2 linked regions of the Homo sapiens genome follow. The protein of the gene in region 1 purifies or fractionates together with the protein of each later gene. This does not show direct contact. Each region holds a gene or a part of one and is shown in the gene's direction. Other genes may lie near its edges.

Evidence for each region.
Region 2: the proteins of KCTD3 (region 1) and PLEKHA7 purify together in Homo sapiens (affinity purification with mass spectrometry; 2 studies listed by BioGRID and IntAct, with this or other methods). This does not show direct contact.

The regions. Positions count from the first base shown.
Region 1 is NC_000001.11:215,562,857-215,570,922, forward strand, and holds the start of KCTD3 (BTB/POZ domain-containing protein KCTD3), read left to right. Parts: upstream 1-4,447; 5' UTR 4,448-4,829; coding exon 4,830-4,912; intron 4,913-8,066. UniProt on the Homo sapiens protein: Accessory subunit of potassium/sodium hyperpolarization-activated cyclic nucleotide-gated channel 3 (HCN3) up-regulating its cell-surface expression and current density without affecting its voltage dependence and kinetics.
Region 2 is NC_000011.10:16,776,422-16,780,962, reverse strand, and holds the end of PLEKHA7 (pleckstrin homology domain-containing family A member 7), read left to right. Parts: coding exon of another isoform or gene 1-11; exon of another isoform or gene 12-21; intron 22-1,942; coding exon 1,943-1,965; 3' UTR 1,966-3,666; downstream 3,667-4,541. UniProt on the Homo sapiens protein: Required for zonula adherens biogenesis and maintenance. Acts via its interaction with CAMSAP3, which anchors microtubules at their minus-ends to zonula adherens, leading to the recruitment of KIFC3 kinesin to the junctional site.

The DNA.
Region 1 (8,066 bases):
CTTCTGCACTAGAACTGCCCTTACTTCCACCACACTATTTTTCTTCATGTCACTAAATCCAAAGTCAATTCTTAGTTCTTATCTTACTTGTCCTGTGATCTCATAGGACCCCATGCTCCCTTGGTTTTCCTCCCATCTGGCTGAAACTCCTTTCTAGTTTCCTTCACTGGAACTCCTCCCCAGTCTCTTAATATTGGATAGTCAAGGGCTCCATTCTGATTTCTATTTTTGTCTCATTCTACACTCACCTCCTTATGATTTTAGGCAGTCTCATGGCTCTAACAGCCATCTATATACTACTCATTCCCAAAGTTTTATTTCAGTAAAAATAAGAGAATTTTTAGCTTAGTTCTCTTTCTGAAACTTCTAGGTCCTTTATACAACAGCTTACTCAACATCTTACTTGGATATCTAATACAACGCTACTTTAAGTGTGGTTACTACTTTTAGTGTACTACTTTTAGTATAACCACACTTCAAGTAAATGCTACTTTAAGTGTGCTACTTAAGTGATAATAAACACTACTTTAAGTGTGGCCACTTAAGTGTGGTTCATGAATTGATGCCCATCCACAAACTGTGAATAGTCTGCAATTAAATAAGCACAAAAATGAGACTAAGAGGTTGGAAACTTTTTTTTTTTTTTCTGAGATGGACTCTTGCCTTGTCACCCAGGCTGGAGTGCAGTGCTGCAATCCCAGCTCACTGCAACCTCCATCTCCCAGGCTCAAGTGATTCTCCTGCCTCAGCCTCCCGAGTACTTGGGATTACAGGAGCGTGCCATCACGCCTGGCTAATTTTTGTGTTTTTAGTAGAGACAAGGTTTCACCATGTGGCTAGGCTGGTCTCGAACTCCTGACCTCAGGTGATCCGCACACTTTGGCATCCCAAGTGCTGGGATTATAGGTGTGAGCCACAGTGCCCGCCCGAGCTATATATATATAAAGGGGAGTTTACCCATCACAGAACTAATGGAATATACATATATATATTCCATATATATAATATATATTTATAAATACATATATTATAAAACATATATATATTCCATTAGTTCTGTCCCTCTAGAGAGTCCTGACTAAATCACCCCATAAATTGGAAATTGAACTAGTTCTTACCTGAGATAGTTTGACAAGGACTGGTCGAGTAGACATCACAAATTCAATATAGTCACTAAAGAAGGTAATATTATTTAAATAATGTTTTATTTACTTTGTATTGCCTAAATATTAAAATAACATAAACTTTAAAAAGCTGTCATGGGGACAACCTTGAATGTATCTACTCTATTTATTTACACATTCATACATACATACAGGTAGTACATGAAAGAAAACTCACTGTAAACAGTTAAACAATATGAAAGACCATAGGGGTAAAAGGTTTTGTCCATTCACCACTGCTACCTTCTCCTCACTGATTCTAATGATCTGTCTAGAGGTTATGTTTCTTCGTAGTTTAATATGTATTTTTATATAGAAATATAAGTGGATATACACATGATTTTAGTTTTTCCATTATTTAAATGAATGAGATTGTACTCATAATGTATTATTCTGTAATCTGATTATTTTCCCCACTAAATCATATACTTGGAGATCATTTCTGGTCAGTTCACATGAATTTGCCCCCAAAATAGTAATAGCTTCCAACATAATTTTAAAAATTATTCCCTTGTTGTTGAATATTCCATGTTTTTGCTATTATAACACTACTACCATGAATATGCACTTACTTCTTTGCATGTACCTTTGCCAATTGAGCAAAATGTGTATAGGATATATTTTTAGAAGAAAAGTGCTGGGTCTAGGGTATTTACATTTAAAATGCTGATATTCTTGAGGTGCCCTCCAGAAACTCTGTACCCATTCATAATTTAATCAGCAATGCATGAGTATGATCATTTCACACTCTCACTGTCCTTGAATTTTATCAAACCTCTCTTAATTTTTGCTAATCTCATGAGTAAAAATACATTTTTTGTTTTATTCATTTATTTATGTATTTATGTATTTATTTTGAGATGGAGTCTCGTTCTGTCGTCCCAGCTGGAGTGCAGTGGTGCGATCTCAGCTCACTGCAACCTCTGCCTCCCAGATTCAAGCGATTCTCCTGCCTCAGCCTCCCCAGTAGCTGGGACTACAGGCGCGCACCACCACGCCTGGCTAATTTTTGTATTTTTAGCAGAGACGGGGTTTCACCATATTGGCCAGGCTGGTCGCGAACCCCTGACCTCGTGATCCACCCACTTCGGCCTCCCGAAGTGCTGAGATTACAGGTGTGAGCCACTACACCCAGCTTTCTGTTGTTTTAATAAGCATTTTAGTGTTTTTATCAATTGGCTGTTGATATTCTTTCCATATTTTTCATTACTTGTTTTCTCAATTTATTTGTAGAATAATATATACATATATGATCAGATATTATATATTTTCAATCATTTGATATATGTTGCAAATATCTTTTCTCATTCTGCTATTTGTTTTTGTTAATGGTGTTCCAATTTATTCTTAAAAATTAAGTCACACCCTAACTTTAAGTTTTATGAGCAAGAAATGCCTCAGATATCTCTATATTGTTCTGGACATATCAAGAAGTCATGACCATTTGTCTTATAAAATACTGAGAACTTTTCCTTCTCTTGAAGAGATGTTCTCCTAATTTTTAAGTACAGTATAATAAAATGAACACGGTTTCATTTATTTCAGGAAAAATAAGAAGCCTTTCACAAATATATATATTTTTAAATTTATAAGGCCTTATTCTAACTCCAACTTGCCTCTTGGATTCAAAGGCTGTTAGCAACTATTCTTTCATATTCTTCCAAGGTTTGGACCTAAGGAAAATTAAATGGCCCTTTTACCACTTAAATCTTCGCTGCAAATTTTAAAGCAAAGTTTCAGATCCTGATAGAACCAGATATTATGTGTTAGGGCAAAGGCAGTTAACATTGTTTAAAGCAAGCTTGTCCAACCTGCAGCCCCATGGGTCGCATGCAGCCCAGGAAAGCTTTGAATGTGGCCCAACACAAATTCATAAACTTTCTTTCTTTCTTTCTTTCTTTTTTTCAGCTCATCAGTTATCGTTAGTGTTAGTGTATTTTATGTGTGGCCAAAGACAATTCATCTTCCAATGTGGCCCAGGAAAGCCAAAAGATTGGACACCCTGGTTTAGATTCCTAGTTGCTGCTGCTTTAATCTGAACTGTTACTCATCTTCCCTGTCTAAAGTGAAGATAATGAGGTACAATGCAGTGGTAAGGATGGTGAACAGTGGCCTTGAATTCAAGCTGCTTGCCTTGAAATTCCTGCCATCCCACTTGCTACCTATGTAATTTTGAGCAAGTTTTTTTGATCATTTTCATTCCCAAATTTCCTTTTTTAAAAATAATTATAACATTAGTTGTGACGAAGAAAGATGACAAAATATCTAAACCACCGGGTATATGATAAACACAAATTAGCTATTATTAAGCTTATCATCAACTGGGAGAAATAATACTTATCTTACATCCATATGTACTATTAACATCTTTCAAGTCGAATCTAGATAGAGCATATCACAACATTAGTATGCTTGCCAGAGGCTATTTTTTATTTTTTTGGTAAAAATTATGACAATGACAATAAAAACTTAACATCAGATACATTATCAGTTTGAATTATTATGATACAACTATGACAAAACAATTCATGTTAAGAATTTAGTACCACAAACTAATGACCTCTGAAACATAACGCACTATCTTTGTTAGTCTTTGTTAGCAGGGCATCAAGTATTATAGTATTCCGATTTAAAAAATATTTTAATAGCCACTAAGGTTTTGGGTTTGAATAGATACCGTTTAAAGCAAAAACAAATAAATAAACAAGCGCATAAAATTGTGTGTTTTCTGCGTGTGTCTAACATTAGTTGAGTGCTTACTATATTCCAGAAATAGGTTGCTGGGCATTACACAGTCTAGGGGTTTTTGTCCTTTGGTTTCCTTCCTGCTTAACAAACAAAAGCAAAAAACAAAACAAAAAAACTGCTTGGGAGATTGGGGATTAAATTGAAGAGGGTAAAGTAAGCAGTTTTCTGGGGTAAACGCTGTAAGGTTTTAAAATCTCCAAATGTTCCCTGCATTTGCACTGTCTACATTTAGGCATCAACTTTTACTACCTCTAGGATTAGTTTTTCCTTTCCCAATCCATGTTGACAAAGTGGGTCATAAAGATCCGTAGATCGTTTGCCCAGATCTGCCCTCAATCTGCGAATCAGCTTCCTCGTTTTAGAAAATCTGAAATGTAAAAGGGAAAGGGGCTGGGATCGCGTGGGGAGGAGGAACGAAATGGAATCCCGCGTGGGCAGGCGGCTGGCCAGGAGCACATTCCCCTAGCCTCCCTACGCGCCAGCCCCGCGGCGTTGGGAAGCTCCTCCCTGACCTTTCCTTCCTCCTCCTCCTCCTCATTCTAGGCGGCAGTGGCGGGCGAAGCGTGAGCGCTGCGGTATTTTGTCCCGAACGGTGACCCCTCCTCCCAGGCAGGCTGCGGCGGCGTCGGTGGCAGCGGAGCACGGAGAAGAGGCCCGGGCGGCCCGGCGGCCTGGAGGCCGCGAAAGGTGGAGGCCGGGCCGCCCTTGTGCACCGCAGGATTGACCCGGGAAGGGGCAGAAGCTAGCGAGCCCCGCCCGGCCGCCGGGAAGGTGGGGGAAGCCCCGTGCACCCCCCGCCCTCCGGCCGCCGCCGCCCCGCTGGCCCTGCAGCCGTCGCCGCTGCCTCGGGCTACAGCCCCGGGCTCGGCGGTCCCGGCTGGGGAAGGAGGGCGGCGAGCGCGTCCGGAGCCGCCGGAGATGGCGGGAGGGCACTGCGGCAGCTTCCCCGCGGCGGCGGCCGGCAGCGGCGAGATCGTCCAACTGAACGTAGGGGGGACCAGGTGAGTCGGCGGGTAGCGGGCTTGCAGCGGGGATGCCTTGGCGGCCTCCTCCTTTGGTGTCGACGGGGACCGAGAGTCGCAGGAACGAGGGCGAGCGTGGGAGGCCAAGCCTGGAGGGGAACGTGGGGGCCTCCAGGCGGCAAGAACGTCGGGCGGATTTTGGAGCTGGTGAAGCATCTGCTCTGGGAAGGGAGAGGCAGAAGGGACGCTTGGAATTACCGAGGACCAGGCCCATGTGGCAGAGTAGCTGCTGTCCTAGAATGCCAACCTTTGCCCCTCCCAACAGGCAAGGAGAACCATTACACAGCCTTCCTTACCTCATCTCAGATTAGAGTGTATTTGAGGACTTTATTTAGTAGAAACCTGGCTTTGTGGTTTGGATGTTGGAGATGAACTTGCTTTCCTTTCTCTTTGGTCAACGAGGTGTCGGTTTTCTTAGGGAAGAGTGCGGTGTTCTTTTCCGCGCCTAATTAGGGGATTTGTAATTTGAAAGATTTCTGTGATGGGAGTGCAGTAGGTTTGCAGTACCTAGTTATTTATTTTCAGAATTTCTTGGTGCATGGGCTTGAAGGATCTGTTCAACTTCTAGGACAGTGTGTCCAGAAACTGCAGTTTGAACATTTGCTTTTAGGAAGCTCTGGATATTGGCACGGTGTGACGCCCTTGGAGTAAACAGACTGAATGCTCTTCTCTGTCTGTTCTCTTTCTGGCCTTCCGCCCCCCCCCCCCCCCGCCCCTTCTGTGCCTGTTATTAAGTTTGTTGGGGGAAAAAATCGTAGTTTTTGTGGATTTCCTATAACTTATGAGTCACTCCTCTCAGAAAAGGGAGTTTGCCAGCTGTTTGAAAGAAGGATTAGTTGAGTTTTAGGCTTGGTAAGGAGATAAACAAGGAAATGCTCTGGAATACAGTTAATTTTTCTGTGCTTGAGAATATGATTTTCAACCAGCATTTTAAAAGTATTTTAATGTCTTAGAACCATAGTGATAAAAAATGTCTACTGTAGTGCTTTAATCCTAAACATTTGATAGCTTTCTAGAATTTAACACAGAAAACCATGGTACTTCGTTCTTAGGGTTTTTCCTCTTCCCCCAAATCAAAACTTAGATAATTTACAACGTTATTGCAGTTGTATAGAAACCAGTCTTATGGAGATTTATGTCTCCTAATGTAAGAAATGGAGTTTTTCCTAAAATCACGTTAAAATATTGGAAGTTTGGTAACTTGTGGAATACCCCTAAAGAGGAGGCCTGCAATGTGTGTTGATTATACTGAAGAGTAGCAGTATAATCATTTACAATCCCTACACTGGTTTCTACTTGCTATTGATAGTTAATGTATTTCTTTTCTTTAATTTTCTTTTTTTTTTTTTTTGAGACGGAGTCTTGCTCTGTCGCCTGGCTGGAGTGCAGTGGCGCGATCTCGGCTCACTGCAGCCTCTGCCTCCCAGTTTCAAGCGATTCTCCTGCCTCAGCATCCCGAGTAGCTGGGTCACAGGCGCGCGCCACCACGCCCGGGTAATTTTTGCATTTTTAGTAGAGACGAGGTTTAACTACGTTGACCAGGATGGTCTTGATCTCCTGACCTCGTGATGCTCCCGCCTCGGCTTCCCAAAGTGCTGGAATTACAGGCGTGAGCCACCGCGCCTGGCCGATAGTTAATATATTTCTATTCAGACATTCACAAGGACATACAGTATTATTGTAAAAATTAAGCAGTATTGTTATTTACTATGTGGATGGCTTAATACTGAGTGAACTCTTATTAGAGACTGCAGAATTCATTTAAAAGTTTTAACTCATAAGGCAGTTATCTTGGCACTGTAACTTTTTTTTTTTTTTTTTTTTGAGACAGAGTCTCGCTCTGTCATCCAGGCTGGAGTGCAGTGGTGCGATCTCGGCTCACTGCAAGCTCCGCCTCCCAGGTTCGCGCCATTCTCCTGTCTCAGCCTGGCACTGTGACATTTTATCTTGTGTTTACATTATTTATGAAACTTGAGCTTATCAGGTTCTAATTTTTTCTAAGTGATATTAGCAAAGATACAAAATAGTACATATATTACTGGTTTGAACAGTTTACAAGACATGAAATTGTTAGTGGGAATGGAAACATTAAAAAACTTCAGAAAATTGTTAAGATAAAATGGCTTATAAAATAAGTAGTAATGGTATGGCCCGTAGAAAACAACATCCGACTCCATATTCTAAGAATATTTTCTAGATTTGCTTTGAATCCTACACTCGTGCAGCATTTTAGAGCTAGATGAGATCTAGAAGTCACCTGTATCTTGTACAAAACACAGTGTAACATAGTCACTTAAGCCACTGTAAGAGAAAAATCCTGATATGATTGCCACTGAAGTTCAGGAACTGCTGTGGCATAGAATTGAAGTTCTGAAGTGATAGAGTAAAACTCAAAAGGAGAGTTTGTTGGGAGCAGAGAAGCATATGCTATCGGTAAGGTCTTTTTTTTTTTTTCCCTCAGGAGAATAGACATGAAAATGGATATACTCAAAGGAATTATAGAAATGACTAATTTTTATGGTTTAATACTTTGTGGGTGATTCAGAAAGTAGAGTAGATGAAGTTTCATTTAGAATTGTTAGTATTCGTTATTTACAAAAAGTAATGAAGTGAATTCACTATGACTGAATTTATGATTAATTCTGTTATGGGCAAGTGTGATTTTGGGCCTCATGCAAGAGGGCTGGGACTAGCCATTGAGGACTCCTGGACAAAGAGCTTTTGAGTCAGGTATATGTTTCCAATTCCCAGGCTTTATCTCTAACTAGCCTAGCAACCTTGGACAAATATTTTGATACTTAGTCTATTAAAATGTAAAGTGACAGACAGTAGTACCAATCTTATCAGATTGTTATAGGAATTTGAAGTAATAAATGTGAAATGCAAGGGTTAGTGGCATTATCAGTACTTACAGTGCAGAATAAATAACTAGTTAGATTGCTACCAAGTTAATTTAGTAGGAGGCAAGTTGCATGAAGTATAACTGTGGGTATGCAAATTTCTTTAGTCCTTTGCTGAAACCAGATTGTACATGACTCTGTTCTTGGGACACTATGGGTATGGGATAAAAAACAAATCAAAACAGAAAAGGCTTTCAAATGATTATGCTCATCATGTGTAATTTTAAGTGTGT
Region 2 (4,541 bases), on another chromosome or scaffold:
CCTTTGTCTAACACCTTCCAAGTAAGAGCCCCTGTCTGGTGTGCTTCTGCCTGCTTCCTGCACCTCCCTAGCGCTGAGCCCCTCACCTCCCTGCTGTGCTGAGGTGATTGCAGTGCCACCTGCTGATGCCTCCTTCCACTGGCAAAGCGGCCGCTGGCGGGACTGTTCTGACTGGTAGGCAGGTGGGAAAGTGATGCTTTTTAGGAACTCAATCCTCAGTGGCTCTAATACGATAGGGACTGAGCAATCCACCCTGCTGCCTCCATGAAATCTCTAGAACCGGAACTGTGCCCCCATCCCCTGCTCTCCTCAGTAGGGCACCCTGATGCCCGAGAACCAGTGCAGACCACACTGCCAGCCTTGGGGGGCTGGAAAGGAAGAGTTAGATCTTGGCCTTTCAGGGCTTTGGCCAAAGAAATTGAAGAACTGTAAGATTGGGAAAAGTCCAGTTCTACAGATGAGGAAACTGAGGCCCAGTGAGGGGCTGGGGCTCACTCCAGGTCACAAAGAATTGGTGTCAGCGCAGAGACTGGGACTGCCCTTTTGGTCACTGGGCACTTTAAGAGGGAGAGAAAGGGAAGCCCAGGGCAATGTGAAATTGGCCCTCAGCCAGGCAGAAAGCTCTGGCACCAACCCTACCAAGTTCTCCCCATGTGGGCATCTAGTGATGAGAGGCAGTGTGGGATGAGGAGGGAGCCCTGAAACAGGAGGCTGGCATCTGGTCCAGTCTCAAGTGAGTTCTTGGCCTGGGCCTGTTGCTTTTGAGCCCAGCGGTTCACCTGGACAGGGGAAGGTCAGACTACCAGTCTGGGCAGTCCTTACCCTGACATCCCATCCCACTATCATTTTGCAGGGCTTTCCCCTCTCCTTCCTTTACGTATACTTGTGGTTAACATTGTTGAGTGCCTGCTGTGTGCCAGGCATTGTGCTAAGTATCTCTTTCGATCCACACAACAACCCTATGAAGATATTCCCCCCCCCCTCCCCGTTTTAGAGATGAAAAAACAAAAGCTCAGAGGCCTTGAGGGATATGCGCAAGGAATCGCAGCTTGTTAAGTGCTGGGGTTTGAACCCCTTTGATGTGAGTTCAGAGCCTTTGTTCCCCATCACCACTCATGGGTTCATCTGGGCCGCCCCGAGCAGCTCTAGGTGTTTGGAGAAAGAAGTGAAAGGAGGGAGAGAGTATTTGTGCTGCAGGGAGCGAAGCATGATTTTTTGGCAGGTGTCTATCCTGGGTGCTCCCCGTGCCTCACAGCAGAGTCAGCAGGTCCCCGCCAGCCTGAGCATGAGAGGAAGAGGTCAGCCTCCTTGGGCCAGGCTCTGAGGAGGTGTGGAGTAGAGGCCCCGTGGTTGAGGAGCCATAGGGAAGTGCTCTAGCCACGCCCATTGTGAAGGCCACATTTGAGGGTGTGGCTTTCTCCTAGAGATCTGAGCACAGTAACAGCGCTCAGTCACAGAGAGGCAGGAGAGAGGTTCTGTTCCTCCTGGGTTTTGGTGCCCCCATGGCTGTAAGATTGGCCTATTATACTCTTTGGAGTACTGCATTTCTTCTTACTCTCAAAGCATCCTTGTTAAGAAGTGGGTATGACCACCATGTTTTTTAGGTTAGAAAAACAAGGCCCACAGAGGCCAAGAGCGCTACCCACATTGAAAGAATGAAGGGCAGGGCCAGACTGCACCTTTATTAGAGTCTTTGCCCTGTCGGGATGGGGACCCAATTTAGGGGCCAGCATGTGTCTAGCAGTGGAATAGGGGTGCAGGGAGGGTGGGGCAAGAGCCCCATGTGTCCTGGAAGCTGAGGGTCCCCCAGCAGCGGCCGCATTGCCAGAGCCCCCTGCTCTGCTGCTCTGCCTGTCCGCCTATCTGCCATTCCATCATGTGTGTGCAGACGTGCCTGCTCCCTGGATGCCAGCCTCTCACTGTCTCCTGTGCTTTTTGCCAGCCCAGGCAGTGACTGACCCGTGACCCAGCATGCAAAGAAGCCTGGAGCCAGGGGCCCAGTGGAACCAGCTTCCTCCAAGGAGATGACCTTTCTGCCCCCAAGGAAACCCCTTCCAGCTGAGCAGGGAATCCGGCCGGAGGAAGGAGCAGCTTACCGACTGCGGGTGTTCACCACAGGCCAGGCCCTAATATGCACCCACTAGTTTAGCTCAGACTCCTCTCTACATATGAATGGCAAAGGCACTTTTGATATACACTGTAAAATACACTGTATTTTAGAATCGGAATCTATTTTCTAATGTTCCCCTCAAGGGCTGAGTGGCAGGAAGGTTGAGGATGCAGGACTTTGCAGCTGCACGTACAGATTCAGGTACTTCTGGGTGACAGGTGTTGTGGGGGCAGGAAGGGCGGGGCAAGCCGAGGCTAGTCCAACTTCCAATGACCTCAGGAGAAAGTGAGATTTAAAGAGGTGTTCCCAGTAGACTCCAGCAAGAGGCTGGTTGGCGTGCTGTCTGGGAGAAGAGGGGCCCTTGGCTGCAGAGATCAGCTGTCCCTGACCTGATGACCAGCTCTGTGTGAAACTCCACGAGGATCACACGTGGAGCCCAAGTCTGTGCCTTGCCCCTTGGGTTTGGCTTAGGGGCAACAGTGTGTTCAAGAGGACTGGGGCCCACAACCTGCCCCCAGGCTTCCTCCAGCAAAAGGCTCTTGTCAGAAAGAAAAAAGCAGTTTGCTATCTTTTTTTTTTTTTGAGATGGAGTTTCACTCTTGTTGCCCAGGCTGGAGTGCAATGGCACGATCTCGGTTCACTGCAACCTCTGCCTCCTGGGTTCAAGTGATTCTCCTGCCTCAGCCTCCCAAGTAGCTAGGATTACAGGCATGTGCCACCACGCCCGGCTAATTTTGTATTTTTAGTAGAGACGGGGGTTTCTTCATGTTGGTGAGGTTGGTCTCGAACTCCTGACCTCAGGTGATTCATCCGCTTCAGCATCCCAAAGTGTTGGGATTACAGCCGTGAGCCACCACGCCCAGCCTGCTTTCATTTTTAACAGTACACATTGAAATACAGAAAAGGTGAGAGGAAGCAACTTTCATTGTATCGTAGCAATAAACTCCACACTGGGTGACATCTACCTAGAAATCCCTTCCCTCTAACCAGGCCATGATGGGAACCTTTGCTGCCTGCCCTTGGAGAACCCCGGATTGGCTTCCCTGGGACTCAGGTCTGGTGGCAGGAGGGCAGCAGTGTGCCCCCACCATCCCTCATGGCCTGCCGCCAGCAGGGCCATAATGGCAGGACTTTGATTTGACTTCCAGCCCCACATGAGGAGGGGGGCTACCAAGCCAGGTGCAGTGTTTGTGGCCCTTTATTTAAGTTGTTTTCTTATATTATTCTGCATATAAACAATGACGTTTAAATGGAAAAAACAACAACAACGAAAACCTCCATTGGGTGGAGCCACACTTTAAATGAAAATTTCTCTTTGACTATGCTCAGAAAAAAAAATAGAATTTTGAATATATCTAGCAGTTGTTGTCTATTTTTAACTAACTCCATATGCTGCCAGTATCGACTTCATGACATTTGCCAAAATAAAATTTTATTTTTGCCTTTATAAGATTTTCTTGGAAAAAATGAAATGAATATTTTGCAAGAAAAAGTTAATTTAAAAATGTAATGGTTTGCAAAAAAAATGTGATGTACAGATTAAAATATTAACCTGATACGTTTCCTGTTTCTTGCTGGCTATAGTCTCTGGTGAGTGGCCTGTGTACGTTTGTTTCCATTTCTTTGGAAAATCCCCACTGTCAGCTCTCGGCCCTGCTTCTATTTACCTATGAAAAGTTTCTTCTGGTGACGATTCCTTGACATTTGATTGACTGTAGAGGCCTGGATTGAGGAGGCCTGTGCTTCTGGGCCCCTGGCTAGGCTTCCACAGTTGCTCAAGGCAACCCCCTACCCCATCCCAGTCAAAGAGCCACCAGGCTGTGGACTCCCTTGTGGGGCTGGTTTGTCAGACAGACTGCAGTCCAATTCAAGACAGCGCAGGGAACGCTGTGGGCCCCCTTCCAACCCACATGCTGCCGGCTCGCTCCTGGGAGGCAGCTTAGTGACGGACCATTGCAAACTGGATTTGTATTTAATTCATTTTGACTTGTGATGTATGCTCACAACAGAAGGCAAGAAGCCAGTTCCATTGAGGGGTGTGTATATTTCTGAGCTGTGGTTACGGCAGTTTTTCTCTACTGCCAAGAAGAGCATCCGAGGTTCATGGTGACTTTCCAACTATTTAAACTGGGGAAAGTAGATTCCAAGGCATTCCGAACAGGGGGTACTGCTGCTTTTTTAGCTACTGAACTCTTTAATTTTAAAATAAAATGTACTCTTTGGTTTTAAACATTACTTGGAGATGTCACCATAACAGATGAAGGGGGGTGGTGGTGGTGGTGAGAATGATTTCATAACTGAGTACAAAGCCCCTCAAACCAAAAAAGAAACCACACAGGGGATAATACCCACCCCACAGGGTGGCCATCTGCAGACATTTTCTCAGTGAAAACATGCCAGTGGGTTTATTTTTTATTTATTTATTTATGTA